Linked DNA regions of Homo sapiens: region 2 is linked to region 1. Evidence: fine-mapped QTL for protein levels in blood plasma. Region 1 holds a variant in brackets. A gene starts in the other region. All regions are shown on their forward strands.

The links. PIP is the chance, under the fine-mapping model, that this variant and not a neighbour inherited with it causes the effect. The UK Biobank Pharma Proteomics Project read protein levels with antibody pairs (Olink). The fine-mapping took linkage between variants from a reference panel, not from the people measured, so its PIPs are less certain.
Region 2: MFAP4 starts here. The variant in region 1 is fine-mapped to the plasma level of the MFAP4 protein (UK Biobank, PIP above 0.99).

What each region holds. Positions count from the first base shown.
Region 1 is chr3:50,676,580-50,691,567 of GRCh38, forward strand. All of the region lies in intron 1 of DOCK3 (dedicator of cytokinesis 3), which reads left to right. It also overlaps the pseudogene PPIAP69. Among named protein-coding and RNA genes, the nearest start is that of MIR4787, 9.0 kb to the left of the region's middle. The variant G/T (reference allele first, on the strand shown) is at 3,395.
Region 2 is chr17:19,384,366-19,399,198 of GRCh38, forward strand. It overlaps MFAP4 (microfibril associated protein 4), which reads right to left and starts at 2,825. Exons shown (of 6, transcript NM_002404.3): 1 at 2,785-2,825; 2 at 2,395-2,473; 3 at 1,945-2,099; 4 at 993-1,089; 5 at 734-916; 6 at 1-344. The coding sequence starts at 2,790. The coding sequence ends at 97. RefSeq lists enhancers at 1,113-1,658, 1,659-2,204, 2,205-2,750, 6,741-7,654.

The DNA.
Region 1 (14,988 bases):
GGTGGTTTATCTTCTCCATAACTCGCTCCCAGAACTGCTGAACTAGAATAACAAATAATTGATGTGAGTGGTCAACTCTCCAGTGGCACCCCATGATTGATTTTTTTGGAGGGGGGAGGAGCCCTATTTTGGCGGGGGTGGGGGCGTGGGGGGAGGAGCCCTTGAATAGTGGACAAAGTGGAATTCAGAGTCCTAGCTTCTCTTTACTGGTGGTGTGGGCAAGTAATTTAACATCATTTAACGTCATTTTATTAATGTATAAATTGGGGATAATGTTTACCTATCTTACAGGATTGTGAAAGTGAAATGAGAACGTGCTGAATGCTTAATAGTTTCTTCTTTTCCCTTAGTATTTAGACTAATAACACTAAGTGTGTTCTGAGACAGAGCCAGTGCAAGGTAATCAAGATAGGTACATGTGAATCTCAAAGCACTAGGATTTGGTGTGTGATTTTCCCAGCAAGATGCAACGAAATTCTTGCATTCCTAGGATTGTGTTTTTAGCTTTAGAAAAATTGTTATTCCCTTTGGAGGGCCACAGCATTGGGCTCAGGGCAGAGCTTAATGCTTGCTAAATGAGAGAGACAGTTACACTGAAGACATTTTCATAGCAGCTGTGGTTTAGCATAACTTAGATGCCTTTTCTACCAAACCAAGCAACTCTCTATTTATCTCACAGTCTTCCACTGTCCCTTCCTTAGTTATGATCTAAAAGTTTTTGTGTAAATTGTTTAAAACTCAGGACACATTTTTTTTCATAAGGATGTTAGGGCTACACTTCTAGAACTTTTCATAAAATCCACTTTATAAAGTAGCTTATACATTATACTTATGAGAAAAATAGTCAATTAAAACGGCATTTTTGCTGCATCATTTGATTGCTATGAGGGCTAGCTTGAAAATATAACCATTATCATTTTCCTGTGAGAAAATGTTTGAGTTTCAGCTTTGATTTTTATGACTAACTTGGAGCACAGATTTGTGTCTTTGTTTGTCAACCTATAATCACATAGCAAGGAGGGAAACCCCTTACACTTACTTCCTACCAATTTGGAGAAATTTGTGGAGGAGGGCCTCGAGGGCCTCCTTTTGCCCTGATGTTAGTGAGGGAAGGAGTCCCCTGTTGCAGCAGTACAAAGGGTTTTTTCCACTGCAGCTGTTCATTTGTATTTGACATTGATAAGGCTTTGAGATCCTGTAGTAATACTTATTAAATTTTTTATAATATAGGAATTCTGTACAGGTTATAACATGACTGAATTGTTTGGTTTATTCATTTAGGATGAGGTGATGACTGAGCCCCCCTTTCCATTGTAATATTCTGTGAGTGATTTTAGGCAGTGGGGAGGACATTATCCTTTCTGAGGGTCAGTGATAGGCCTGTCAGTGTGCCTGGGACTCTCACTTAGGTAACCCCATGTCGATTCCCAGAGTAGTCTTAATGTTATCATTATTACACAGATAAAGAAACTGGATCCCAAAGGTTGTTAATTTTTTTTTTTTTGTCCTTCAACGATTGTATATTTTTCTTAATTTTCTTCTTGGCAGTGGGCAGTATTTTGTGAAATACTTGACTGTCTTGCTTTCTTTTTGTGGTACTGTAAGGTACTGTTCTTTACTGTACCCGTTCGCCCGTGTTTTGACTTCTTATGTCCCTTTCCCTCTTAGAGAATCTCTGCTTTCCTTTCTGTTGCCATGAATGCTTGGAAAGTCCTGCATCCTTCCATTCTTTATTCTACCTTTCCAAGAAGCTTCCTGCTCTAAAGTGTATTAGGTGAGAAAAATCCAGCTATTTTTGTGAAACACCTGTCTTTCCCTATACTGACTGTACCCAGAGTACCAAATATAGAATACAAAAACCAAGAAAATGCTTTTCTCACCCTCTAACAGGAGCAACAGCAGGAGCAGCAAGCACCAACAGTTTTTAAAACAAAAATGTTTGTAATTACACTCCTTGAATAGAAAAGTGGTAAAGGTTTGAGTACATAGGTATTAGTTTGACGTCTTAGAAGTGGAAGCTGCTTCAGAAGGTCATCTTGTTTATTCTGCTGCTGTCATTAGGCAATTTTTTTTTTTTGAGAGGTGGGGTCCTGCTCTTGTCATCCAGGCTGGAGTGCAGCGGCATGATCATAGCTTACTGCAGCCTTGAACTCCTGGGCTCAAGCGATCCCCCTGCAGCAGTCTCCCAAGTAGCTGGGACTACAGGTGTTTACTACCTTGCCTGCCTAATTTTTTTTTTTCTTTTTTTGAGACGGAGTCTTGCTCTGTCGTCCAGGCTGGAGTGCAGTGGCGTGATCTCGGCTCACTGCAAGCTCTGCCTCCCAGGTTCATGCCATTCTCCTGCCTCAGCCTCCCGAGTAGCTGGGACTACAGGTGCCCGCCACCATGCCCGGCTAATTTTGTTTTTGTATTTTTAGTAGAGATGAGGTTTCACCATGTTAGCCAGGAGGGCCTCAATCTCCTGACCTTGTGATCCGCTCGCCTCGGCCTCCCGAAGTGCTGGGATTACAGGCATGAACCACTGCGCCCAGCCTTGCCTGGCTAATTTTTAAATTTTAATTAAAAAAAATTTTTTTTAGTGACATGGTCTTGCTATGTTGCCCAGGCTTGTCTCAAACTGCTGGCTTCAAGCTATCCTCCCACCTCAGCCTCCCAAGTCACTGGGATTATACCTGTGAGCCACTGTGCCCAGCTAAGGCAAATTTTTGAGTAATTTAGGGCATTTATTGCTTATTTTTTATTAATCCCTCTTAGTAGAACATGAAAAATTTTTCTCATTACCAATCTGAAGACCTTACATTTTAGTTTTGTAATGTTATATTTATTTTTTCCTATTTAAAAAGTAATGCGTATTTTATGCATTATTTTTACCTAACTTCCTTTTGGTTAGGTTTCTCCAGATAGGGAAGAAAAGCACTTAAAAACAAACAAACAAACAAACAAACAAATCCTGAGTCCTTAAAAGAAACTTGTAAAGATCCTGTGGTGCAGGAAAAGAATCTGAAGGTGGGGAGGAAATAGATCCTTGAAACCAGATCTGGAAGAATTAGTGTTCACAAAATTTGAGTAAATCTGTTGGTAAATGGACTAGAACTCACCAAAATAGTCTGAAGACAGTGTGCTCTTTAGTTATTTATTCAGTGAGGGAAGCCCAACCTTTGCAACCTCTGGAAGGGCCCCAATACCCCTTTAGAGGTAAAGACATCATCCACTAGGGGTAGGAAAGATTTCATAGACCTATGACTTTATTTTGTTCTGAAAAGTGAGGATGTGCTTGATGTCTTGTTTAGTGTTTATGGGGAACTTCCTTATTCATGATTCTACTTGAGCTTTACACTATATCACCACCTCTCCCCTCTTTTTTAAACAGATGAGAAAGAAGCTTTAGCTGAGA[G/T]AAATTAAGTAACTGATCTAAGATACTTTAGATAGTAAGTGCTGAGTTGAGATTTGAACCTAGGACTTTGAGATTCTAAGCCACAGATTGTATTATTACACCGTGTCCTCTGAAAGGAATTGTCAGTAGTATATGACTGTGGCTTGAAAGATAAGACATACTCTGCAGTTTTCAATTTAAACTGGATAGTTATATTTAAGGAATTTTATTTCTGTATTGGACTATTTTTTTCTTTTTCTTTCTTTTTTTTTTTTTTTAGACAGAGTCTTGCCGTGATGCCCAGGTTGGAGTGCAATGGGGTGATCTCGGCTCACTGCAACCTTCGCTTCCTGGGTTCAAGCGATTCTTCTGTCTCAGCCTTCTGAGTAGCTGGGATTACAGGTGTGCGCCGCCACACCTGGCTAATTCTTTTCTATTTTTAGTAGAGACGGGGTTTCACCATATTGGCCAGGCCGGTCTCGAGCTCCTGACCTCAAGTGATCTGCCCGTCTTGACCTCTCAAAGTGCTGGGATTACAGGCATGAGCCACCGTGCCCTGCTTTTTTTTTTTTTTTTTTTTTTTTAAGACGAGGTCTTGCTATGTCACCCAGGCTTGTGTGCTATGGCATGATCGTAGCTCATGGTAACCTTGAACTCCTGGGCTCAAGCCATCCTCTCCAGTAGCTAGGACAACAGGTCCATGCCACCATGCCCAGCGAATTTTTAATTTTTTTTTTTTATAGAGACTGGGTCTTGCTATTTTACTCAGGCTGGTCTTGAGCTCCTGGCCTCAAGAGACCCTCCCTCCTGGGGAGTGGCGGGTTTACAGGTATGAGCCACTGTGCCCAGCCTGTTGCCTACTTTTTAATGGGATTATTTGGTTTTGCTGCTGAGTTCCTTGTATATTCTGTATATTAGTCCCTTATCAGATAAATAGTTTGCAAATATTTTCTCCCATTCTGTAGATTGTCTCTTTACTCTTTTTCCTTTGCTGTGCAGAAGCTTTTAGTTTAATGTAGCCCCATTTGTCTATTTTTGTTTTTGTGGCCTGTGCTTTTGAGGTCTTAGTCATAAAATCTTTGCCTAGACCAATGTCCTGAAGCATTTTCCCTATGTTTTCTTTTAGTAGGTTTATAGTTTTGGGTCTTATGTTTAAGTTTTTAATCATCTTAAGTCTATTCAGTAGACTTCAGATTTCTAGTTCGTTTTATCATGCAGTATTAGAATATGATTTAGAAACATTAAGCTAAATTGTAAACATGGCACCTATTTCTGTGTAGTATTAGATGCATTCTGAAGCAGGGCAGTCTCAAAAGAATGGTCATTGAGGTTGAAAGTACTTTAACCTTCATAGCATATTTTTACATTGGTGCTAAATTTTAATTTTTAATAGTTTGTATTTTGAATTTTTTAAAATTTTTGTGTCTTTATTCTTTAAGAATGATCTGAAATTATTCCCAACATGTAAGCATTATTGGGTATGCTATATTAGGATTTTAATTCCAATGTTATGCTTTTATTGTAATGAACAAGCCAAACCTGTTTATGATTATGCATTTAATTGTTTTGCATACCCCCTTTTGACAGCTTTTGCAGGGAGAAGCAAGCATTTTTTTCACATAAAGGCTCTTAAAACCTTAAATTTTTTTTATACATCACCAAATTATTTTAGCTAAGTACTTGCAGTTGATTTGCTATATCACACCTTAGGGATACTCTAGTAAAGATAATTACTATGTTGGGAAATGTCATTCAGAAGCTTCCCATTTTCCTGCTTATCTACAATGGAATAAAATCCCATCCTCCTACTTTAATATGATTCTCCCTCTCCCTTCGGAACTCATTCATGAGCTCTTGCTAATAAGTGAGAACCAACATGATAGAAGAATTAGAGTGTGATAAACACAGAACTTGATAGTACTGATTTAGTACCATACCTTCAACAGATATGTATTTGGCCTATATTCAAACATATCTATTGCCAATGCCCTCACCACTTTTTGGGACAGCCCATTTTATTGTTAGCTGTAATGAGAACATTCTTCCTTATTGAGTAGACTAATGACTCCCTGTAGTTTCTTATAAGTCCTTGTTCTGTGCCTTCATATAAATAACTTGCATCATAGCTCTTCAGTAAGTCATAAACTTTAGAACTCTAAGAAATCTTAGAGATAATATGGTTTAAGGCCCCAGAGCTAAGACTAGTTGGAACAGCTAGCATTCATGGTTTATCATGTATCCAGCACTTTCATGTTATGGTTCAAATTTGCATGTTCAGCCTCATCCACTGACTTGTTAATACTTTACACTTTAGCCAAACTGAACTTTCTCCAGGTTCTTCTGTTTGTACTTAACTCATAACTAGTGCCGCCATGTCCCAGGACCATTAAACACATATTTGCTGCATCATGTCTTTGTTCATATTGTTCCTTCTACACAGAGTGCCTTTCCCCCATGTCTTCATTTCTTAAATTATTTCCAGCCTGCCAAGACTTCTCTCATATATTGTTATCTCTGTAAATCCTTTCCTAGATTCTTGGCCCTACCCCTCTCTTTCTCCAACCAGATATATTTTATTCTGTTAAATCCTGTTATACTTTGTATTTTGTAGTGGTATATTTACTTTATCCTCTTCATTAGACTAATGTCTTTCCAACTTTTGACTATGACCTACAATAAAAAATACATTTAAAATTCTTATTTGGGCCAGGCACAGTGGCTTATGTCGGTATTCCCAACACTTTGGGAGGCCTAGGTGGGTGGATCACTTGAGGTCAGGAGTTTGAGACCAGCCTGGTCAACATAGTGAAACCCTGCCTCTACTAAAAATATAAAAATTAGCCGGGCATGGTGGCGCACGCCTGTAATTCCAGCTGCTCGGAAGGCTGAGGCAGGAGAATTGCTTGAACCTGGGAGGCGGAGGTTGTAGTGAGCTGAGATCGCGCCATTGCGCTCCAGCCTGGGTGACAGAGTAAGACTCTGTGATCCTCCCAAAGTGTTGGGATTACAGGCGTGAGCCACCGCGCCTGGTCTATCTTTGCATTCTTGGCAGACGCACCTCAGAACCAGGCATGCAGAAGGTTTTACACACGTATTTGTAGCATTGAATTGGACATTTTTATTAATGTGGTATAAAGACTGCTTTTTGGAGACTTCTGAGGTGCCATTTCACACTAATTGCTCATACTGAATTTATAACAACTCTAGGTTTTATTTTATATGAACTGAAGTCAAGCTATATCCCCTCCATCCTGAACTTGTGTGATTGATATTAAACAGAAATGTAAAATTTTAGTTTCATTTAAAAAGTATTTTATATTTCCGTTAACATTAACACTGTATTTAGCTCATGAGTACAACCTGTCAAATCTTTTTGAAGCTTAAGTTTGTGATCCAAGATATTACTATATTTTCTTTGGACCTTTACGCAATTGATAAGCCTGTCTTCTATGTTTTTCCAAGTGGCTAATAAAAATGTTGGACAGGAGAGGAAGAAAATTTTATTGTCCTAGAGGGGAATTATGTCTAGTGTATAAACAAGTAGTGTCTGCAGTGTTGTGATTTGAATGCAGATTATCTGTATGAACATTTTATGATAGTGCCAGCCGTACCACCTTTGTGAACTTGATAATGTTTGGGGTTAGGATGGGCTCCTTAGCCTTAGTTCATGGCTATGGTGTTTTAACAAGGGGGAAAGATGCTGCTAAAAAGTCTGTATGGACTTACTAAAGCATGGGGAGTGAGAAAGAAATATCAGCATTGAAAAGATGTTAACTTCATTTTCATCTTCCTGTACAGGAGGAAGGGTGGCACTAAACTTTTCTCAGAGTTTTGTTTCTGACATTCTCTCCACATTTTTTCTCCCCTCCCCTCCCCGCTCTCCTCCCCCCCCCCCACCCACTCCCTCTCCCCTCTCCTCTTGGCTGGTCTTGAACTCCTGACCTCAAGTGATCTGCCTGCCTTGACCTCCCAAAGTGTTGGGATTACAGGCGTGAGCCACCATGCCGGGTCTCTCTCCACATTTTCTATACTCTAGATATGCTGGACAACTCACCCTTTTCCAGACAGGACTATAATGTTCTTACCTTTATTGCTTTACTCAGGGTGTTGTTATATCATTGGAATCCCATGATTCCCTTTCTCTGCTTGGGGAATGTTAACTGAAAAAGCTCAAATGTCATCTCTTTTTTATGCCTTTCCCTACTCTGCCTGATATAAATAAGCATTGCTGCTTCTACTGCAGTTGGTACCAACCTCTAGTATGTCATTTATCCTTCTAGATCATGCTTAATTTCATCTCTGCCTCAGGGACTGAGTTTCTTGAGGATAAGGAACTTTGTCTTCATGTTTGTATCATCAGGACCTAGTTCATGGTGAGTGACTGGTGAATGCTTAATTAAGATTCCAACCTAGTGAAGAATTTTATTTTGTTTTATTAATCCTGATGGTATTTTAAAAGGCAGGCTGTAAACCTAATAATATTTGATTGTTAGAAATTTGTGACATCATGAGTGTACTTTTTTTCCCTTGGCCTTTCTCTTTCTTGAGCCTGTTAGAGAGGCTTAGTGCCTGTGGCTAAGTTCAGATGACAGATTTTGAGTGGGAGCCTTAGGATTCCAGTATGAATCCCTCTCTCTCACCTACAGTTTCACAGTCATCACAACAGTGATCCACAAATCTTACAGCAGGTAACTGGGATGCAGTTTGAACTTATCCCGACAATACTTCTTTTGTTTGACATCTTTGGGGAATGCTGTGTTTTGGATGAGTGACTTTTCCAGGGAACTCAAGGTTAAACCTTTAAGAGCACCAAGAAGAGATTTTGTCTATTTCTGTTAGAATTTTTTCTAAAATATGACTTATCTAGTCTTTTCTATATTGTGAATTCAGTATCTTGAATACATTTGAGCTTTTTATTTTCCTATGTAACATTTCCTTCTGATTACATAACGTATATATCATTACAGAAATGTCAGTAAATACAAAAAAAATACAAAAAAGAACATAAAGGTGATGTCTTATTTTCATTACCCAGACAACCCCTTTCAACATATTGTCATATCTTTTTAGTTTTTTTTTTATTGTATATACATTTAAGTAGGCATTTAAAATAAATTTGGAACCATACTGCTTATATTGTCTTATAATCTACTTTTATTTTAAATCTATTATACTTTGAACATGTTCTAATATCTGGATTCTTCACTCTTTTAAGACTGCCGTTCTGTAATACAGATATACTATCCTTTACTTTCCTACTTTTGAGCAGTTGGTTGTTTGAAATTAGCTGTTGCCAGATTGTCCTCCAGGACAGTGAGGGTACTTGTTTTCTGCATTTTTGTTATAATAGGGCATTATTTCCTCCACAGACTTGCATTTTGAAAAATTTCAAAATTGATACATGCTTGAGAGCAATAAATCCTCTCTTTACAAAAGTAAAAGGTCCCCTACTACCAGTTCCACTTCTTGAGTATCAGTTGTTTAACTGAGTTTCTAGTGATTTGACATTATTAATACAAAAAAGTGATTATGACGGTTATGATGTTAATACAGGGATATTTGTTTCTTCCTCACTGACATCTATAGGAAAATTGCTAGTTCCAGTGAGTGTATGCTTCAGGATGAAGTTCTCATCAGATCTCCTTGTAGCTGGACTTGCCACACCATTATGGCATGTTAAGTCACCACTCTGACACAAAAACCCTGGAATAATTATATGAAAGCTGGAACCCTTATTATCAAATCCTTTTTCTCCAGTGGTTAGAGCATGGAAGTTTTCTGCTGTCTTTGGAACTTTGTCTGCAAACAGCTCAAAGGAGACGTGGCTCAAGGGCTGTCCATGGCCTAGAACATGGTGGGGTTGACGGTGGCTGGTGGCAGGGAGCTTTGGGGGGCAGTGGTGTCTCCAAAGCCTTGCCCATTTTCTAATTGAGTTGTTTGGTTTTTTGTTGTTTTGTAGGAGTTCTTTATATTTTTTGGATATTAATCCTTTATACAGCAGTCTCTAAGCTTTTCGACACCAGGGACTGGTTTTGTGGAAGGTAGTTTTTCCATGGACAGGATGAGGGGATGGTTTCAGGATGATTCAAGTGCATTACATTTATTGTGTACTTTATTTCTATTTTTATTACATTGTAATATATAATGAAATAATTATACAACTCACCATGATGTAGAATCAATGGGAGCCCTGAACTTGTTTTCCTGCAACTAGATGGTCCCATCTGGGGGTGACGGAAGGCAGTGACACCAGAAGTGTGTTGCTTATGTCCAGTCAATGCCTTAATCTCGCTTTGGTTGCCATCACTGCAGAAAACTCTGCTGCACAAAAATAGGATGTTGGAAATGGAAGCAGGCTTTTCAGTGCTTTTGTGGCAATCTCAGGATATTCCGCCTTGACTCTAATCCAGAATGTATGGAGATTTGAAGTTGTCCCAAACATACCATTAAGGCTGTTGTCATTTGTGATCTCAAGCAGTTGATCCTCTTCTAGCATGCACAAAGTCAATTCACCTGGTTTATTCACAGATTGGTCGTGGATCTATTCCTTCCCAGTTTGGGGGTCTTTTGTGGTTTGGAAGTAATGCTCAGACTCTTTTGAAAGCTGAGATACGTGATCATGCACCAGCTGGGAGAAAGAAGGCCCTGGCTCAGTCTCTTGTAAAATCTCTGCTCGCCAAGCATGGTGGCTCACACCTATAATCTCAGCACTTTCGGAGGCTGAGGCAGGTGGATCACCTGAGGTCAGGAGTTTGAGACTAGCCTGGCCATCATGGTGAAACCCCATCTCTACTAAAAATACAAAAATTAGCTGGGCGTGGTGGCACGCACCTATAATCCCAGCTACTGGGGAGGCTGAGGCAGGAGAATCGTTTGAACCTGGGAGGTGGAGGTTGCAGTGAGCCAAAATCACACCACTACACTCTAGCCTGGGCAACAGAGCAAGACTCCATCTCAAAAAAAAAAAAAAAAAAATGCCGGGCACAGTGGCTCACTCCTGTAATCCCAGCACTTTGGGAGGCCAAGGTGGGAGGATCACTTGAGGTTAGGAGTTTGAGACCAGCCTGGCCAACATGGTGAAACCCCATCGCTACTAAAAATACAGAAATTAGCTGGGCATGGTGGCAGATGCCTGTAATCCCAGCTACTCGGGAGGCTGAGGCTGAGGCAAGAGAATCACTTGAACCCGGGAGGTGGAGGTTGCAGTGGGCTGAGATCATGCCACTGCACTCCAGCCTGGGCAACAGGGTGAGAGTCCATCACAGAAAAAAAAAAAGAAAAAAAAATCTCTGCTAAATCCCAGTGTTGACTCATCGCCCTCATTATTCCAGTTTGGCTTCGAATGCAGCCACTTTATCTGGTGATTTGAACACAGTTGTTGTTCTCCCTTGAAGTGACAGATTGAGCAGGTTGAATATGTCACACAAGTAAGCAGTTTGTGACCCATTCTGCGTCACTGAAATGTGCTGCCAGTAGTGACTGACTGTTTTTCTAAAAGAAATCACTGGAGCTGCTTTCATAACTCAAAAACTCTGGCCAGTGATCTACCTTTAGAAAGTCATCTCACTTCTGTGTGTAAGAGAAGACATGTATGCTCTGCGTCCATTTCCTCACAGAGCTGTGCAAATAGAATGAGCTAAGGGCATGTACTTTAATGTGGTTGATAATTTTAATCACATCCTGTAAAATGTTGTTAAGTTCAGGCGACATTTTTTGTCATTTTTTGACACCGTGCATAGACTTACATTCTGAAGTGACCTCTTTGACCTGAGTAGTGAAATTAGAAAGCTGTCCAGTCATGGCAGCCATTCCATCTATGCATATACTGACACAAAATGACCAGTTTAGTTTTCCTGATATGTAATCATTCAAAGACTTGAATAGTTCTGCAGCTGTGGTGCTAGTTGGCAACAAAGGTGCACACAACATATCCTCATGTGCATCCTCCTGAAAATATATCGCACAAAAGCAAGCACTGTTGCCTTGTCAACATTGCTGGACTTGTCAACCTGGATTGCATACTACAGTGACTCAATCCTCTCTTACAATTGTACCTCAATATCTTCTGCTATTTTATTTATTTGTCTAATTATAGTACTAGCCGAAAGAGGAACATGTGCCACATTTTGAACTGCAGCCTCTCCTAAAAGTTCATGACAAATGTCCTCAGCAGCAGGCAGGATCAACTCTTCACCAATAGTAAAGGGCTTCTTAGTTTTAGCGATGTGGTTAGCCACTAAGAATGTGTCTCAAGTGCAGACACATTTGATGAAGTGGTGGCCTTCAATAATTGCTTCTGTTCTTAGTGTTTCATTTTTTTTCTTTTGAAAAACTCCAAAGGCTTGTCTTTTAATGCAGGGTGCTTGGTCTCCATGTGGTGAGACAGTTTTGAAGGTTTCATGGCTTTGTTGGATAACCGGTTGCCACATTTTATACAAAGCACTTGGAGAATGTGAATCATTTGTTGCAATGAACCCGTAATTTAAGTAGGACTCTTGGTATTTTCATTAATTAATTAATTATTTTGTGAGATGGAGTCTTGCTCTGTTGCCCAGGCTGGCGTGCAGTGGTGCAATCTCGGCTCGCTGCAACCTCTGCCTCCTGGGTTCAAGCGATTCTCCTGGCTCAGCCTCCTGAGTAGCTGGGATTATAGGCGCATGCCACCAAGCCTGACTAATTTTTGTATTTTTAGTAGAGACAGAGTTTCACCATGTTGGCTAGGCTGGTCTCAAACTCCTGACCTCAGGTGATCCCACCCACCTTGGCCTCTTAAAGTGCTGGGATTACAGGTATGAGCCACCATGCCTGGCCGGTATTTTCTTTTAAATGCAGCTTTCTTTATTGTTGGCATTCTTAGAATGTCTTAGAGTCTTCTGCTGTCTCATCATTGAGTCTTCCCCCCTTTTCAAAGAAGCTCTCCAGTGATGTTTGTTTTTTACTCATTTTGCCTAGAGCTAGCTTGTGGGCTTACCAAAACTGTGACTGAGACAAGTGCACCATGTGGGAAAGAGGCATGGACTGTAAATAAAATAATGCGTGGGCTATTCGAGGAGTAAATTAAGTGTCGGATTGTGACTTAAAGCCTGCCACCAGATACAGCTGTGTTAAGTACATTAACTCACTTGCCACTGTAAAGCGTGCCATCTGATGCAGCTTAATTGTCACTTGCCACTCACTGATAGGGTTTCAGATGAGTCTGCAAGCAATTGATTGTCAAACCTCTCTGCTAATGTTAATCTGTATTTGCAGCTGCTTCCCAGTACCAGCATCATTGCCTCAGCTTCACCTCGGATCATCAGTGTATTAGTCTGTACTCACGGTGCTAATAAAGACATACCTGAGACTGGATGATTTATAAAGGAAAGAGGTTTAATTGACTTATAGTTCAACATGCCTGGGGAGGCCTCAGGAAACTTACAATCATGGCAGAAGGGGAAGCAAACATGTCCTTCTTCACATGGCAACAGCAAGGAGAAGTGCCAAGCAAAAGGGGGAAAAGCCCCTTGTGAAACCATGAGATCTTGTGAGAACTCACCATCACATCTTCATGAGAATGGCAGCATGGGGGTAACCAGTCCCATGATTCAATTACCTCCCACCAGGTCCCTCCCACGACACATGGGGGATTATGGAAGATATAATTCAAGATACGATTTGGGTAGGGACACAGCCAAACCATATCAGCCAGGCATTAGATTCTCATAAGGAGCATGCAACCTAGATCCCTTGCATGCACAGTTCACAACAGGGTTCGTCTAATGCTGCTGCTGATCTGACAGGAGGCGGAGCTCAGGTGGTAATGTGAGCAGTGGGGAGTGGCTGTAAATACATATCGTTGAAGCTTTGCTTCTTTACCCACTGCTCACCTCCTGCTGTGTGGCCTGGTTCCTAACGGGGATAAAGCAGGGTTGGGGAGCCCTGCTTTATCAGATAGGTGACTTGGAAATATTTCTCCCATTCTGTGGTTGTCTTTTCACTCACTTGGTGGTGTCTCTAGATGTACAAAAATTTTAAATTTTGATGAAGTCCAATTTATCTGTTTTTTTTCTTTTGTTTGTACTTGTGGTGTCATGCTACGAAACTGTTGCCAAAGTCAGGATCATGAAGCTTTTCCCCTATGGTTGTTTATAATTTATTTTTATTGTGGCAAAACGTACGTAACATAAAATTTGCTATTTTTACCTTTTTTTTTTTTTTTGGAGACAAGGTCTTGCTCTCTCTCCCAGGCTGGAGTGCAGTGATGCAGTTATAGTTCACTGTAGTCTCAAACTCTTGGGCTCAAGTGATCCTCTGCCTCAGCCTCACCAGTAGCTAGTACTATAGGCATGTGCCACCATGCCTGGCTGATTTTTTAAATTTTTTGTATGGATGGGGTCTTGCCATGTTGCCTAGGCTGGTCTCAAACCCTTGGCCTCAAGAGACCCTTCTACCTTGGCCTCCCAGAAAGCTGGAGTTACAGGCATGAGCCATTGTGCCCTGCCCATTTTGAAGTATATAGTTCCATGGCATTAAGTATGTTCACATTGTTGTGTAACTGTCATCCACTGTCTATCTCTGGAATTTTTTCGTCATCCCATACTGAAATTCTACACCAGTTAAATGAAAACTCTTTATTCCCCCTCACCCCCAACCCCTGGCAACTACTGTTCTACATTCATTCATTCGTTCGTTCGTTCATTCATTCATTCATTCATTCATTCATTATTTTGAGACAGAATCTCGCTGTGTTGCCCAGGCTGGAGTGCAGTGGTGTGATCTCGGCTCACTGCAACCTCTGCCTCCTGGGTTCAAGTGATTCTCCTGCCTCAGCCTCCCGAGTAGCTGGGACTACAGGCAGGCACCACCATGCCTGGCTAATTTTTGTATTCTTAGTAGAGATGGGGTTTCACTATGTTCGCCAAGCTGGTCTCAAACTCCTGACTTCGTGATCCACCCACCTCGGCTTCCCAAAGTGCTGGGATTACATGTATGAGCCACTGTGCCTGGCCTCTACTTCCTATCTCCGTGATTTTGACTATTCTAGATAACTCATATAAATGTAATCATATGGCCGGGCGCGGTGGCTCATGCCTGTAATCCCAGCACTTTGGGAGGCTGAGGCAGGTGGATCACGAGGTCAGGAGATCGAGACCATCCTGGCTAACACGGTGAAACCTCGTCTCTACTAAAAATACAAAAAAAATTAGCCAGGTGTGGTGGCGGGCACCTGTAGTCCCAGCTACTTGGGAGGCTGAGGCAGGAGAATGGAATGAAACCAGGAGGCGGAGCTTGCAGTGAGCCGAGATCGCATCACTGCACTCCAGCCTGGGTGACAGAGCGAGACTCTGTCTCAAAAAAAAAAAAAAAAAAGTAATCATACAATGTTTGTCCTTTTGTGTCTGGCATATTTCACTTAGCATGAGGTCTTCAGGGTTTATCCATGGTGTAGTCTATGTTAGAACTTCGTTCCTTCTTATGTCTGAATGATGTTTCAGTGTATGGGTATACCACATTTTGTTTATTCCTTCTTCTGCTGATGGACACTTGGGTTGTTTCTACCTTTTAGCTATTGTAAATAATGCTGCAGTGAACACTGGCATGCTAGTACTTGTTAAGCTCCCTGTTTTCTATTTCTT
Region 2 (14,833 bases), not on the chromosome of region 1:
GGAATCAGCAGAAGCATGCATCAGGGGCAGCAGAGGGAGCACTCATGGAGACCATGGGTGTCCAGGGGAGGAAAGGTGCCTGAGGGGGCCAGCCCTTCAGGCCCGGCGGATTTTCATCTCAGTGCGTTTGAGGGAGTAGTAGAAGCCCTTCCACTGGGCCCAGTTGATGCCATTGGCATAAGAGAGGTGGGAGCCACCTAGGTAGAAGCCATTGAGGTTGGCAAAGTGGCAGCTGCGGAACCAGAAGGCTCCTGAGGAGAGAGCTGCGCAGTTCTGCACAAAGAGGTCCTGGTCCCGGTCGAAGGTAGAGAACTTCTGGCCACTGTGGTAGGACAGGGAGTCACCTGGCAGAGGAGAGAAGGGTTGGGGCTGCTGAGGCAGGGAACTGAGCCCCGAGCTGGCCGGGAGAGGGTGACAATGACGACTGTGAGAGATATCACGTGGCAGCCTGGCGGGATGGGGGCACCCTCCCTGAGCCAGATGTTGGGTTGATGTGCTTCTGCAATGAAGAGAAACAGCTGCTCCACCACAGAGTTGCCTGGAGCAGGGCCAGGATGGCTGCTCCCCAGGGCTGAGGCCCAAGCTGGTTTGAGCTTGTTTGGAGCCAGCTGTGGCCCTTCCAGATCCAGAAGGGTTGAAGGAGGGGCCTGAAGGAGGTTGGGGCTGACTGGGCAGGGCCAGCCCTGCCTTCTTTCCCCTCACAGCCCCTCCCAAAGCTAACAGCGGGTTATACCTGCCCCGCCATCCTCAAAGCCTGCCACAAAGAGGGTGTAGCCATCCTCCTCTGCGCTGACCGCGTTCGGGGAGATGGAGAAGTCAGCGTACTTGGCATAGGCCGTGTTGTTCTCAAAGTCCTCCAAGTCCACTCGCAGCTCATACTTCTGCTTCAGTGTCAGGAGGTGCATGTTCTGCAGCCCTGGGGAGGAGGGGCAGCTGGTCAACAAGGACCTGGCCCTGGGGCAGCCCCTCAGCCCACCTGGTCCCTGCCTTACCCAGCCAGTACTCTCCATCAGCACGGCCGAAGCCCAGCTTGTAGTCATTCCAGCCGCGGAAGAAACTTACTGAGCCATTGAATCTCTTCTGGAAAACCTGGAGCAGAGAAGATGAGACTGGATCATCAAGGGTCCAATGGGCAAGGTTCTGGTCCTGCCCTGCCCACCTCAAGCATGGACCCTGTGATGCTGTGGCCAGTTTGTTAAAGGACTGGGTTGGGGGTGGGGAGGGTGGTGGGAGTGGGGTTGCTAAAACAACGTCCACATTGGCACCAGGCCCCCTGTGGAGCAGTTGCCAGCACCCACCTGGGCTCTTCATACCCAGTTTCGTATAGAGGCAGGAAAGAGGCTAAGAGGGAGGCGTTCTAGAGTTCGAGTGCCTAGCTGTGGGATCTGGGCAAGTTACTTCACCTCTCTGGGCTTTAGTTCCTCACTACTTCCCAGGATTATTGTGAGGCTTATGTGCATTAACCTACCTCAGCTGGGCGCGGTGGCTCACGCCTGTTATCTCAGCACTTTGGGAGGCTGAGGCGGGCGGATCACCTGAGGTCAGGAGTTCAAGGCCAGCTTGGCCAACATGGTGAAACCTCATCTCTACTAAAAATAAAAAAATTAGCTGGGCATGGTGGCACATGCCTGTAATCCCAGCTACTCGGGAGCCTGAGGCAGGAGAATCTTTTGAACCTGGGAGGTGGAGTTTCCAGCAGTGAGCTGAGATGGAGCCACTGCACTCAAGCCTGGATGACAGAGTGAGGCTCCGCCTCAAAACAAACAAACAAACACCTACCTCAGGCACTTAGAATTAAGCGTTGGCAGCTGCTCAGAAGCTGTGCTGTGGGTATCATTATCCCCATTTTAAAGATGAAGAAACTGAGGTTCGCATATGTGAAGCCCAGGGTCACAGGGCTGGGATTAGAACCAGCTCTGGCCTCTGTTCCCTCCTCCCACTCACCGTCCACTTCCCGCCCTCGGTGGTCATGTCACAGAAGACGGGCACAGGCACACTGGGGCCCGAGGGGTAGATGAGGTACACGCCGTCTGACTGGTAGCCCTGGGCATAGATGTCGTCACAGTCCAGGGGTTGCTGAAGGCAAAACCTCTCCAGAGCTGGGGGTAGGGACATGGGGACAGTGAGGAGAGTGGGACTATGGCATCACTGACACCTCAGCACCCCAAGGTTTGCCTCAGTCCCTGGGGCTGGGGGACTTTGACACAAGGAGTCATGGAAGATTTCTTCAAGGGAGATGAGCAATGCTTATGTCATCCATCTGCCCCATTTTGTAAAGGAGGAACCTGAGTCCTGCAGAGCTGGGGCTCGGCCCTGACAGTCTGTTCTGACAGTCCAGCCTCTTCTTGCACAACCTGTGGGCCAGGCCGCGTCTGTGAGTGTGGGGCTGCTTACCATCTCCTCGGATCCCGGAGACCTGGGGGGCACACGGGGGCGTGGAGAGAAGCAGCAGCAGCGGCAGGGCCAGGAGTGCCTGGCGATGGGCAGACAGGGTCAGCACAGCCCCTTCCCAGCTCCAGAGATCCCCTGTTCTCTTTGCATTTGCCCCCACCATGCATGCACATACTGCCCTTGCCTGAATCCCTCTCCTGCTATTTGGCCCCTCTTCCCTGCCCCCCCACCCCGCCCGCCAAGTAACCCCACTCTCTGGGACGCTGTGTACCCTCATAGCTTACGAGTTTCAAGAGAACTCCTTGTGCCTTCATAGTGCCCTCTGTGGCCAGGGGCCTCTGGAGTGGGCTCAGTTCCCCCATGCTATGAGTCCCCCGACCCTGGGCCCCGTACCTTCATGCTGTCAGTTCTGCTCAGAGTGGCTGGGTGTCTGCGGCCCCAGACTGCAACCGCCCAGAGTTATGCGCTGGGCCCCCGCCAGCCGCCCCAGCCCCGCCCCCCTTCCCGTAGCTGCAGAACCCCCCTCTCCCCACCCCAGACAACCAGCATCAGTTTACACTATCAGGGGGCTGGGAGGTGGGGCTGGAGCCAGGGGACCACCTGTGTCTCATTAGTCCTGTCGGGCAAAGTACTGCAGACGTTAACTCCCTGCTGGCTCCAACTGTTCCCTGGATCCCACTCCATCCGCTATCCGCCATCTGCCACCCACCCTGCTAGACCTGTGGGCCCCCTGGCGCCCCCAGGCAGCCCCAGCCCGCCGCAGCCTGCCCCCTACTTCCTGATGGGCCCCCCTGCAGATGTCTGTTTATTCTTTCCCCTCCTTCCCTGGCCTGTGTTTCATCAGCCATTGAGGGGGAGGGCTGAGGGAGAGTGGGGGTGTCATATGCCTGGCTTCTGGGGACGGGAGGCCTGCTCTGGGGGAGCAGAAGGCTGAGGGGACAGTTTCAGAGCTCCTGATGTGGGAGCCTGGCTGGGGCTGGTGGGGGGACAGAGGCAGCAGTTTCTTGGCAGGCCTGGGACATTTCTGAGCCATGAGCACAAGGCTGCTGGCGTCCAACTGCTCTGTCTGCCCCAGCTCAGGCCAGGGCCCCTCTCCAGTCCCCCTCCCCAGCCCCCCTCACTCTGGCCACCTCAGGCCCACTCTTTTCCCCTCCCACAGTTCCCTGGCCCATCTGGCTCACATGCAATAGGTATGGGACCTCTTTTGTTTCTCCTCACTCCACCCCTCCTTTCTTCTTCCAAACCCTTCACTTTGGCTCCCACACCTCCCAGATTCATCTGAATCTCCCTACTTCTGGGCTCTCTCCTCCTATCCTTGGCACACTACCAGGAGAGTTGTTCTAGATGGCCTCTCAGATTATGTCACCCTGCTTAAAGCCTCATGGCTCCCTATTGCCTCAGGGCTGAGGCTAGGTTTCTCACCTTGGACATGAAAGGAATTTCAAGTCTGTCTCTGGCCTACCTTGAGGACCTTGTCCCTTATTGCTGTGACTCATAAACTACAGTGCAGCCACTCCAGACTTTTCACCATGGAGGTCCCCACTCTTTTGTGCTGCTCCTTGTGGTGCCCGCTCATCTGCCTCCTTTTGTTGGCCATAAGGGCCAGTGAGCAGGGTGTGTGTCTCATTTCTGCATGCTCAGTGCCCATCACAGAGCCTGGCACAGAGTAGGCTTGATATGTACATGCACAGTCACTTACGTATTTATATCTATATATAGATAAGATACTAGAGTCAGGGCCTTGCCCTGTTGCCCAAGTGCAATCATAGCTCACTGCAGCCTCAAGCTCCTGGGCTCAAGTGATCCTCCCACCTCAGCCTCCTAAGGAGCTAGGACTACAGGTGTGCCACCACACCCAGCTAATTTTTTAATTTTTTTGTAGAGATGGGGGGGGTCTCCCTATGTTGCCCAGGCTGGTCTTGAACTGGCCTCAAATGTTCTTCCCACCTTAGTCTCCCAAGAAGCTGGGACTACAGGGCCAGCACACCTGGCTCACAGATATCTTTTGAGCGCTGTGTGCTATAGGCTATGCTGGCTGCTGAGGATACAGTATCTGCCCCACAAGGAGTGGCAAGCACAGGTTTTGGACAGTGAATTGCAAATGTAAGGTGTATTACAAAAGGACATTTGTGTTGAATGGATGAACAGATGAAATATTCAAAGGCAAAGTGATGAGGCAGCTCTGGCTTAGGTCCCATCTCTCCACTCCTGAGTCAATAGATAAGCCCCTTGGCAAAGCCCCAGTTGGCCTCCCTGACTTGGTTCTGTGATTGCCTCTATTCATAGTTGTGTCTTGTGTCAGGCTACCTCAGTTCAAATCTAGATTCTGTTGCCTGTTAGCTGGGTGACCTTGCAAAAATTACCTAGTCTCTCTGTGCCTTGGTTTCCTCCTCTGTAAAATGAGGATAGTCATAGTATCTACTTCATAGGGGTGTGGTAAGGATTAAGTAATACATATCAAGTTCCTAAAACAGTGCCTACAAATGGCAGCTATTTAGTAAATATTAGCTATCGTCATCGTCATCATAAACATCATGATTCTCATATGAATGGGTTGTCTTCAACACAGCTTGTATGCTTGCCTGTGGAAGAGACAGTTGGCTGGCTCTCAATACTCGTTCTTCCCTTAGTCCTCAGTAGTAAGATCCTGATTTTTATCTGGGCTCATTGTCCAGCCTCCCTTGTAGCTAGGTGAGGTCACACATCTGAATTTTGGCCAACAAGATGCCAACAGGTATGTTGTAAAGGTAGGTGGCTTGTCCCTCTTCATCCTGCCCTCTGTCCTGCTGGATGTGATGGCTGGAGCTCTAGCTGCCACCTTGGACAGTGGGGATGAGGAAGATGAGGCCTCATCAGGGAATGGCAGAGGAGGAACTGGCAAAGCCTCTCACGACTTTGTGGAGTCGGTACAAAAACAGCCCTGGACTGCCCTCCTCTAGGCCTTTTTTATGCAGGAGAGAAAGAAACTTCTATGTATTTTAAGTGTCTGTTGTTTTTTTTTCTGTTACACACAGCTGAATCTAATCCTGATCTCTTCTTTCAGCAAATGCCAGCTAATTTTAACACAAGTCTATAAAAGGGAAAATAATGAAAAAAAATCAGTTATCAAAACAAATACTAAAATGGTCCAAAGTCAAGTATTGAAGACTTTTGGAGAATACCACTAATGAGCAAACATAGAAACTCCTTCTCCCCCTAGAAAAGAGAGAATTAAGATACGAGGTATCAATTACATTTTGCCAATTAGTTTTTACTTAAAAAATGCAATAATGTGTGTGGGTGCAGCAAAGCAGGCACTGTGTTCACTGGATGTGGCTGGAAATTAGTTTAACTTTTGTGGTAAAGAAATTTGGTAATAACATGCCCAGAGTCGGTAATCCTTCTAAGGTGTTGTCTGGAGGAAATACTCTGACATGTTGAAGAGGCTACAGATACAGCTGGGGGACATTACTTGTTGGCTGCCCAGCATGGGAAACCTCTTCCCACATTTGGGGTGTTCCTCTCCTAACTAGAATGCTGGGTGTTCACATTTCCAGGGTTCCTTGCAGTTTGATTGAAGGCACATGGCCTTGGTTTAGCTGATAAAATGCACGGTCCTGGGCTTCATTTTGGGAGAAAGTGATTTGAGAAGCAGAAGCAGGAAGAATCCATTCCTGGGGCGATGGTGACCCCAGTGCTGTCTGGGTCCTAGTTTCTCTGGGTGGTTGGTGGTGGCTTGGCAAGCACAGTGCTGAGTGACACTGGCTTAGGCTTAGGCTGCAAAGCCCTGAGCTTGGTTCTCAGCCCTCCCAGTGATCAGTTTGCTCTGCCTGCTGATGTTTTTGAAAGAGACCCCCAACTCACATGCATAAAGATGTTTGTGTCTAGATTCTGTCATTGCCAACAACAGACACTAACTCTGACTTTGTTGGGAGGCTTTGCTGGGAGTCTAGACTAGGGGTGGGTGGGAGCTGAGGCTGCCCTGGGCTCTGGAAAGCAGGCCCTCAGTGGGGGTCCTGTGGTGGGACAATGTTGGGTTGATGCTGCTCAATGCACATGGCTATGGCTTTGTCTGTCTGCCAGATTCCAGGAGTGAGGAGGGTCCATCCCATTGGCCTTGCTTGGGTAATTTTATGCATCCCTTGGCAAGGGGAGTGCAGTTGGACACCTTTCATTTGCCTCCCCACCTTTCTCCCTACTGCCCTGGGCCCCGGAAGGCCAGCCTCACCCTCTGGTTTCTGATTGGGTCCAGCCAATGAGGAGCTTATCAGGATTCAGCGGGAAGGAGAATGAAGTAGGAATATTCATTCCCCTCCTTGTAGAGTCCCCACACACTGGTTTTGTTTCTCAGCCAACAGTCTCAAGTCCTGCCAGGTAGCCATCTCCATACAGCCTCCTGACTCACTGTGGGTGACTCCTTCCTCCTCTGCCCGCTTCAGGTCTAGGGGTGTTGACAGCCCTGGTGTTACCAGCCCAGAGATAGGGGGCCATCTCCTGCTTACACCTCAGCAAATAGTCCTTTTATTAAATGCTACTCAAATTGTCCTAACCTGAGTGTTACTTGATGGAAACTGGACTGATTCAGGGAGAGAGGCATCCCTGACTATAATACAGAAAACGAGTGTGAGACTAGGAGGAGAAGTGGCTGCAAGTGTACAAAAAAGTCTCCACTAAATACCCTCTGTAATAGTCATTGTAATGTATGCTGTAATATTGTCAAACCCAGATGGCTCAGTAAAAACAGATGACCCCCTGTGCTTCCTCGATGTCATTTTGGTAAGACATTTGCTCAAGTTGGTATGGCTTCCGCCCCTGGGTTAGGCCTGTGCTGGTTGTTCTCTGCGTTCCCTGATCCACCCACATCCTCCTCTGTGCCTGGTGTGGGGGCTGCCCTGTAGGGAGGACATCGCTGGGTTTCCATGGCCCCTGGCTTCCAGCTGGGTTTGACTAATGGGAGACACCAGCAGGAGATGGGAGAAGAGAGAGGTTGAAGTATTTCTCCCAGCTCCTGTCCTGATGAGCACTGCAGTTTTGGCCGTAGCTGTGCCCGCTGTCCCTCCCGCCCCTCCCCCCCACCTCCTGATGACATCTCCTGCCATAACCTCCCTCACTGTCTCCAGTAACCCTGTTTCCTCCCCTTGCCCCTTAGGCTGGGATGATGAGGGCTGTCATCCTTGCTAGCCCCAGGATGCCTCAATGCCCCATGTTGGTTTTCTTAATGTTCACACCCAAGTAAATAGTCCCTTCATTAAATTCTCTGAATTAAAAAAAAAAAACCCAAACAGCTGAGTTCACCCTTTGTTTCCTGAGAGGACCCTGACTGACTCAAGGTCTTACTTTGGTTTCCTCTAAAAGCACAGCAGCCTGTGGAGTGGAGCATTTTCTGTTGTTTTGGACAACAGCTAAGGACAAGACCCCTATTCTCTCTGCAGGTGCAGACACCTCCCTGTGTGTCTTGCTGGCAGGCAGCTAGACTGCTCCTTTATCCACCCTCCTGTATCCGGAGCTAGAGAAGCCTGAGGAGAGTTTTTGAAGGAAACTCATCAAAGCAGAGAGCACCTAGGGAGAAGAGATGGTGGGTCCCCCCAACCCAGGCCAAGCAAAGGGGCTCCAAGAAAGAGGAGCTGTGTGCCAGAAGGACAGACTTGGGTTGACAGGCTGAGCTGCCCAAACCCAAGGGCCCTTTCCCAGAGGCCGCTGCTGCAGCAAAGTGAGAACGACTGTTTGGAAGACGGGTGAAGCCTAGGGCTACCCGAGTTGGAGAGGAGAGGGGGCAGGGGCTCGCACAGTCATCATTTGGCAGGACACAGATGTGGTGTTCCGAGTGGGTGCTGTGGAATATGAGGTCAGATTGGAATCAGGCCCATCCTCGTAACCTCATTTTACCTTAACTACCTCTTTAAAGGCTGTATCTCCAAATATAGTTGCATTCCAAGGTAGTGCATGGTACAGCTTCAGTGTGAATGTTGGGGTACACGATTCATCCCATAACAAGCATCTTAGAAGCACCAGGCACTCTTTAACCCTTTATAGGCAACCGTGCACAAGACAGAATCTCCAGCCCTCCTGGAGCTACAGAAGAGAAAGAAAAGTAAAGTGAAATGATAAGTACTATGAAAAATGAAGCAGGAAGGTAGCAGGAGTGGGGCCAAAGTTTGGAACAGGGCATGTCCAGAAGGCCGTAGTGTGGAGATGGTAATGGCAAACTCTGTGTCCAAGGGCAGACACAGACATTTTGTGGTGGGGAACACTCTGTCTTATTTCTGTAACATGGGGGAAGGTTTTAGGAGGGATTTAGTGTCTCTCCCCACCTTTTTATAGTTTGGGACAAGATCAGTTGATGGAGCTCAGGATGTGGCAGAGAGAAGAGGCAGATTAGAGATGGGGAGGGTGTTGAATGTAGGCTAAAACATTTGAACTTGATCCCAAGGGCCTTTGGGATTAGGGTATATTGAGATAATGTAACTTAGGTTCCTGATTTTACTTTGATGTGTAGATGCTACATAACTGGGGAGAAAGCATACAGATTAGAGGTCTTTTTGTGTTTAAATAAACAAATGCATGTGTATAATTGGGATAAGAGGGGTACTTGGAGGCCGTTTATGGAGAAACAGCAGTCCCTAGCCCTGTGTTTGATGAGTCCTGGGGTTGAGTCTTTCATTGTGCTGGCCAGCGAGTGGAGGTTTGTTTCCTTCAGTTCTGAGAAAATTCTTTTCTATTACTTCTTTGGCTATTTCTTTCCTCCCTTTTCTCTGTTCTGTTTGTGATAATTTTATTAGTTGGATATTGAATCTCTTAAATTGATCCTGTATTATATATTTCCCTAAAAATCCTCTGTGCTCTGCCAACCATCTCTTCCTCCCCCTAACCCCCTGGCAACTACTGAACTTTTTAGTGTCTCCATAATTTTATCTTTTCCAGAATGTCATATAGCTGTAATCATATAATAATTTGTAGCCTTTTCAGATTGGCTTCTTTCACTTAGCAATATGCATTTAAGTTTCCTGCATGTCTTCTCACGGTGTGTTAGCTTACTTCTTTTCAACACTGAATAATATGCAATTGTCTGGATGTACCACAGTTTATTTATCCATTCACTTAATAAAGGACATGTTGGTTGCTTCCAGGTTTGGGTGATTATGAATAAAGCTGCTATAAACATCTGTGTACAGGTTTTGTGTGGACATACATTTTCAACTCACTTGGGTAAATACCAAGGAGCATGATTGCTGGATCATATGGTAAGACTATGTTTAGTTTTGTGAAAAACTGCCAAACTATCTTCTGAAGTATCTGTACCATTTTATATTCCTACCAGCAATGAATGATTGCTGTTCCATATCTTTGCCAGCATTTAGTATTGTCGTTATTTTTTACTTTTAGTCTTATATGTATGTAATGATGTCTTGTGATTTTAATTTGAATTATTTAATAGCAAACGATGTTGAACATCTTTTCATGTGCTTGTTTGCCATCTGTATATCTTTTTCAGTGAAAAATCTGTTCATGTCTTTTGCCCATGTTCTTTTATTTTTGAGACAGGGGCTTGCTCTGTCACCCAGGCTGGGTGTAGTGATGCAATCTCAGCTCACTGCAGCCTCAACCTCCTAGGTTCAGGCCATCCTCCCACCTCAGCCTCCCAAGTAGCTGGGACTACAGGCGTGTGCCACCATGCTTGTCTAATTTTTGTATATTTTTTAGAGACGTGGTTTTGCCATGTTGCCCAGGCTGGTCTCTAACTCCTGGACTCAAGCAATCCTCTGGCCTCAGCCTCCCAACGTGCTGGGATTACAGGCATGAGCCACTGCACCCGCTCCCCCAACCCATGTTCTAATTGGACAATTTGCTTTTTTACTGCTGGAGTTTTGAGAGACCTTTATGTATTCTAGATACTAGTGCATTGTCAGCTATGTGGTTTGCAAATATTTTTACCCATTCTGTGGCTTGTCTTTTTATCCTCTTAACAGGGCCAGTCTTTTATAGAGCAAACATTTTAAATTTTGATTAAGTTGAATTAATCAACTTTAATGGATTGTGTTTTTGGTATTATATCTAGCAACTTTTTGCCTAGTCCTAGGTCCCAAAGATCTTCTATTTTTTTCTAGTTTTATAATTTTACATTTAAGTTGGTGATCCACTTTGAGTTAATATTTATAGAAGTCAAGTTCTTTTTTTCCCCCTTCTTTTTGTAGATTCCTTAGGATTTTCTACATAGATAATTAGGTCATCTGCAAATAGGGGAAAGTTTATTTCATCCTTTCCTATTTGTATATCTGTTATCTCCTTTTCTGGTCTTACTGCACTGGCTAGAATTTCTAATCCTGTGTTGAATAAGAATGATGAGAGCAGATATTGCCTCGTTCCTGATTTTAGCAAAAAAGCATCCAAGGCCAGGTGCGGTGGCTCACGCCTGTAATCCCAACACTTTGGGAGGCTGAGGTGGGAGGATCACTTGAGCCCAGGAGATTGAGGCTGCAGTGAGCTGTGATTGCACCACTACACTCCAGCCACGGTGACAGAGTCAGACCCTGTCTCAAAAAAAAAGAAAGCAAGCATTCAGTCTTTCACTGTTAGGAATAATGTTACCTGTAGGTTTTTTGTAGATGCTCTTTATCAAGTTGAGAAATTTCCCCTGTATTCCTACTTTTCTGACAATTTATCATTCATGGGGTGTTGAATTTTTTCAAATACTTTTTCCACATTGATTGATATAATCCTATGGGTTTTCTTCTTTAGCCTATTCACTTGGTGGGTTATATTGATTGATTTTCAAATATCGAACCAATCTCTCATTTCTAGAATAAATTACACTTGGTCATAGTGTAGAATTATTTTTATATTGCTGAATTCTATTTGGTAATATTCTGTTAAGAATTTTTGCACCTATTCATGAGGAATATTAGTCTGAACTTTTTTTTAAGTACCATCTTTGGTTTTGATACAGGGTCATAATAGCTTTGTAATGAATTGGGAAGTATTTCCTTCTCTTTCCTTCCGTTTTCTGGAAGATATTTTATATAACTAGTTTTAATTCTTTTTTTTGTTTGTTTTTTTGAAATAGGATCTTACTCTGTCACCCAGACTGGAGTGCAGTGGTGTGATCATGGCTTCCTGCAGCCTCACCCTCCTGGGCTCAAGCAATCCTCCGTCCTTGGCCTCCCAAAGTGCTGGGATTATCGGCATGAGCCACTGAGCCTGGCCCTGTGTTAATTCTTTTGTAAAAGTTTGGTAGAATTCTTCAGGGAAATCACGTGGGGCTGGAGATTTTTTTTTTTTCCTGAGAAATATTGTGATACATCTTTTAGGCCTCCATGGTTTTTCAAGAGATGTTTGTTGTCATTTAAATTGCTTTCCCCCTGTAAATAAAGCATTTTTGCCTAGGTGCTTTATATATTATTTTCTTAGTTTTTAGTTTTCAGAAATTTATAATGTGTTTTGCCATGAATTTTTGGGAGTTATCCTGATTAGGATTTGGTCACTCCTTTTTTTTTTTTTTTTTTTGAGACAGAGTCTTGCTTTGTCACCCAGGCTGGAAGTGTAGTGGCACAGTCTCGGCTCACTGCAAGCTCTGCCTCCCGGGTTCACACCATTCTCCTGCCTCAGCCTCCTGAGTAGCCAGGACTACAGGCACCTGCCATCACGCCCAGCTAATTTTTTGTATTTTTAGTAGAGACGGGGTTTCACCATGTTGGGGTTTCACCGTGTTAGCCAGGATGGTCTCGATCTCCTGACCTCATGATCCGTCTGCCTCGGCCTCCCAAAGTGCTGGGATTACAGGCGTGAGCCACCGAGCCCGGCTTGCTCACCTTTTTAATCTGTTGTTGGCTTATGTCTCTTGTCAAATTTGGGGAGTTTTCAGCCATTATTGATTTGAGTACTTCTTTTTGCCTCACACTCCTTCTTTCCTCTAAGGACTCCAGTGACACAAATGTTAGATCTTTGTTGTACGATAGTTCCCCAGGTCCATGAGTCTGTTCATATTTTTTCCAGTCTTTTTTCTCTCTTTTGTCAGATTAGGTAGCTCTATTGTTTTGTCTTGGAATTCACTGATTGTTCCCTCTGTCCTCTCCATTCTGCTCTTGAGCCCATCCACTGAGGTTTTTATTTTGATTATTGTATTTTTTGGTTTTAAAGTTTCCATTTGGTTCTTTATAGCTCCTTCTTTTTTTTTTCTTTTACTTTTCTTTCTTTTTTTTTTTTTGCTGAGGCTTTCTATGTTTTCATTTGTTTCAAGTGTGTTTGCAGTTGCTCATTGAAGCATTTTATCACAGCCATTTTAAACCTTTGTCAGCTAATCCTGACATCCCAGTCATCTCAGTGTTGGCATCTATCAGTTATCCTTTGTCATTCAGTTTGAGATTTGCTGGTTCTTTATATGATTAATACTTTTTGATTGAAACGTGGACATTTTGTATTATGTTATGAAACGCTGGGTCTTATTTAAACCTGTTTTTTGTTTGTTTGTTTGTTTGTTTTTTTGAGACTGAGTCTTGCTCTGTCACCCAGGCTGGAGTGCAGTGGCGTAATCTTGGCTCACTGCAACCTCCACCTCCCAGGTTCAAACGATTCTCCTGCCTCAGCCTCCCAAGTAGTTGGGACTACAGGGACATGCTACCATGCCTGGCTAAATTTTGTATTTTTATTAGGTTGGTGCAAAAGTAATTGTGACTTTGCCATTAATGGCAAAAACACTTACTTTTGCATCAACCTGATAGTAGAGATGGGCTTTCACCATGTTGCCCAGGCTGGTCCGGAACTCCTGGCCTCAAGTGATTCACCCACCTTGACTTCCCTAAGTGTTGGGATTACAGGTGTTGGCCACCACACCCAGCCTAAACTTGTTTTAGCTGGCCTCTGACACCCCTCTGGCCGGGAAAGGGGTGGCACTGCCTCAGTACCGCCAGGTGGGGGTAGAAGTCCAGGTTCCTCAGTTTGCTTCTGTTGACACTTAAGAGGGGGATTCCCTGTTACTGTTGGACAGGGTGCAAGTTTCAGCTCCCCACGTGGTCTCCACTAACACTGCAAGGTCAGGGAGAGCACCTGTAATGGCTGGGATGCAAGTCCTGGCTCCTACTTGGCCTTCTCTGTTACCACCCAGCTGGGGATGTTGGGACCCCTCGTTACTGCCTAGTCAGGAGGAGGTCTAGTCTCCCCATTCAGCCTTTGTGGCATGGGTGGGTGGAGCTGCATACTTTCCTGTGGCGTTTGGCTGCAGTAGGGTATTTATTGCCTAGGAATTTTCTGTCTTGCCAGGCCGCCCTTTTCCTGGTCCTTTGGCTACAGATAGCAGGTTTTGTTGAGGGTTTTTTTTTGTAGTGGCTGTTGGCATTTCCAGACTGCCAGCTTCTCCAGTACCCATTCTGGGATAATGAGACAAAAAGAAAGCCTAGGAGAGTCGCCACTGTCCTCAGTCCTGATGTCCCTGGCCCGCCTGCCTTCTTTTCTCCACCTTTCAGAGTCTTCTCATGTTTGTCTTGTACGTGATGTCCCAGGTTTTTAGTTGTACTTAGCAGGAAGTACAGGAAAAAATATACCTACTCCATCTTCCCACAAGTGGAAGTTCCTTAAAAAGAATTATGAGGCCTAAGTTACATAGAGTGACGTAGACCAGTATTTACAAATGTGTACCTGGGAACTACCACCCAGATTCCTAGCACCACAGCAGGCTTCCTGTGAGGAGTGACACATTTTTATTTGCATCTGTAAAAAATTGGGCTGGCTGCCAGGTGGAAAATGGATTGGTGGGAGGCAGGGGAGGGACTGATGGCCTGAGTGTTCTCAGACACCATCATCTGTCCCTGATGGCTCCTGTGGGTGGGGTGGGGTGGCCTGGGCTCCATGGGTCACCACCCTCCTCTTTGGCACTGGGTCATCAGTCAGGGTCAAGCAGTCCAGGGCTGCCTGATGTGGGTGGGGAACCTCTGCTCTTTCTGGCATCAGACTCATTGTCAGGAAGCAGAAGCACATTTCAGTTTTTGTACACCCTCTTTCCTGACCTCTGGGGTCAGCTGTTAATTTCCTGTTGCCTAACTGTACTCCACATTCATTTTGTCAGCAAACATGCTGTATTATGGATTGCTAAGGACATGACTGCTGTGGCTGCTTTGCTCTGCCCGGCCCTGGATTATGGTGTTGTGATAGGGAGAGCAAATGGGGTTAGAGAGAGAGGAAGAAGAAATACCATGTGTCTGCAAGAGAAAGAGACAGAGAGAAACAAATGGTAGAGACTAGATAGGAGATAGGCTTGGCTGCAGGTCACTTGGATAGCCTCAGTTTCCTCATCTGTAAAATGGAGCCAATATTTTCACCTTTAGAGAAATGTGGGGAGGATGGGAGATTCTGTTGTTACAAGGACTCAGCATATAGTAGGAGCCCAGTAAATAGACATGATCATTATTATCATTGTAATAAACTAATGGAAAACTGTACTTCTTTATCCATTGGATGTCTGTTCTCAGGCCTA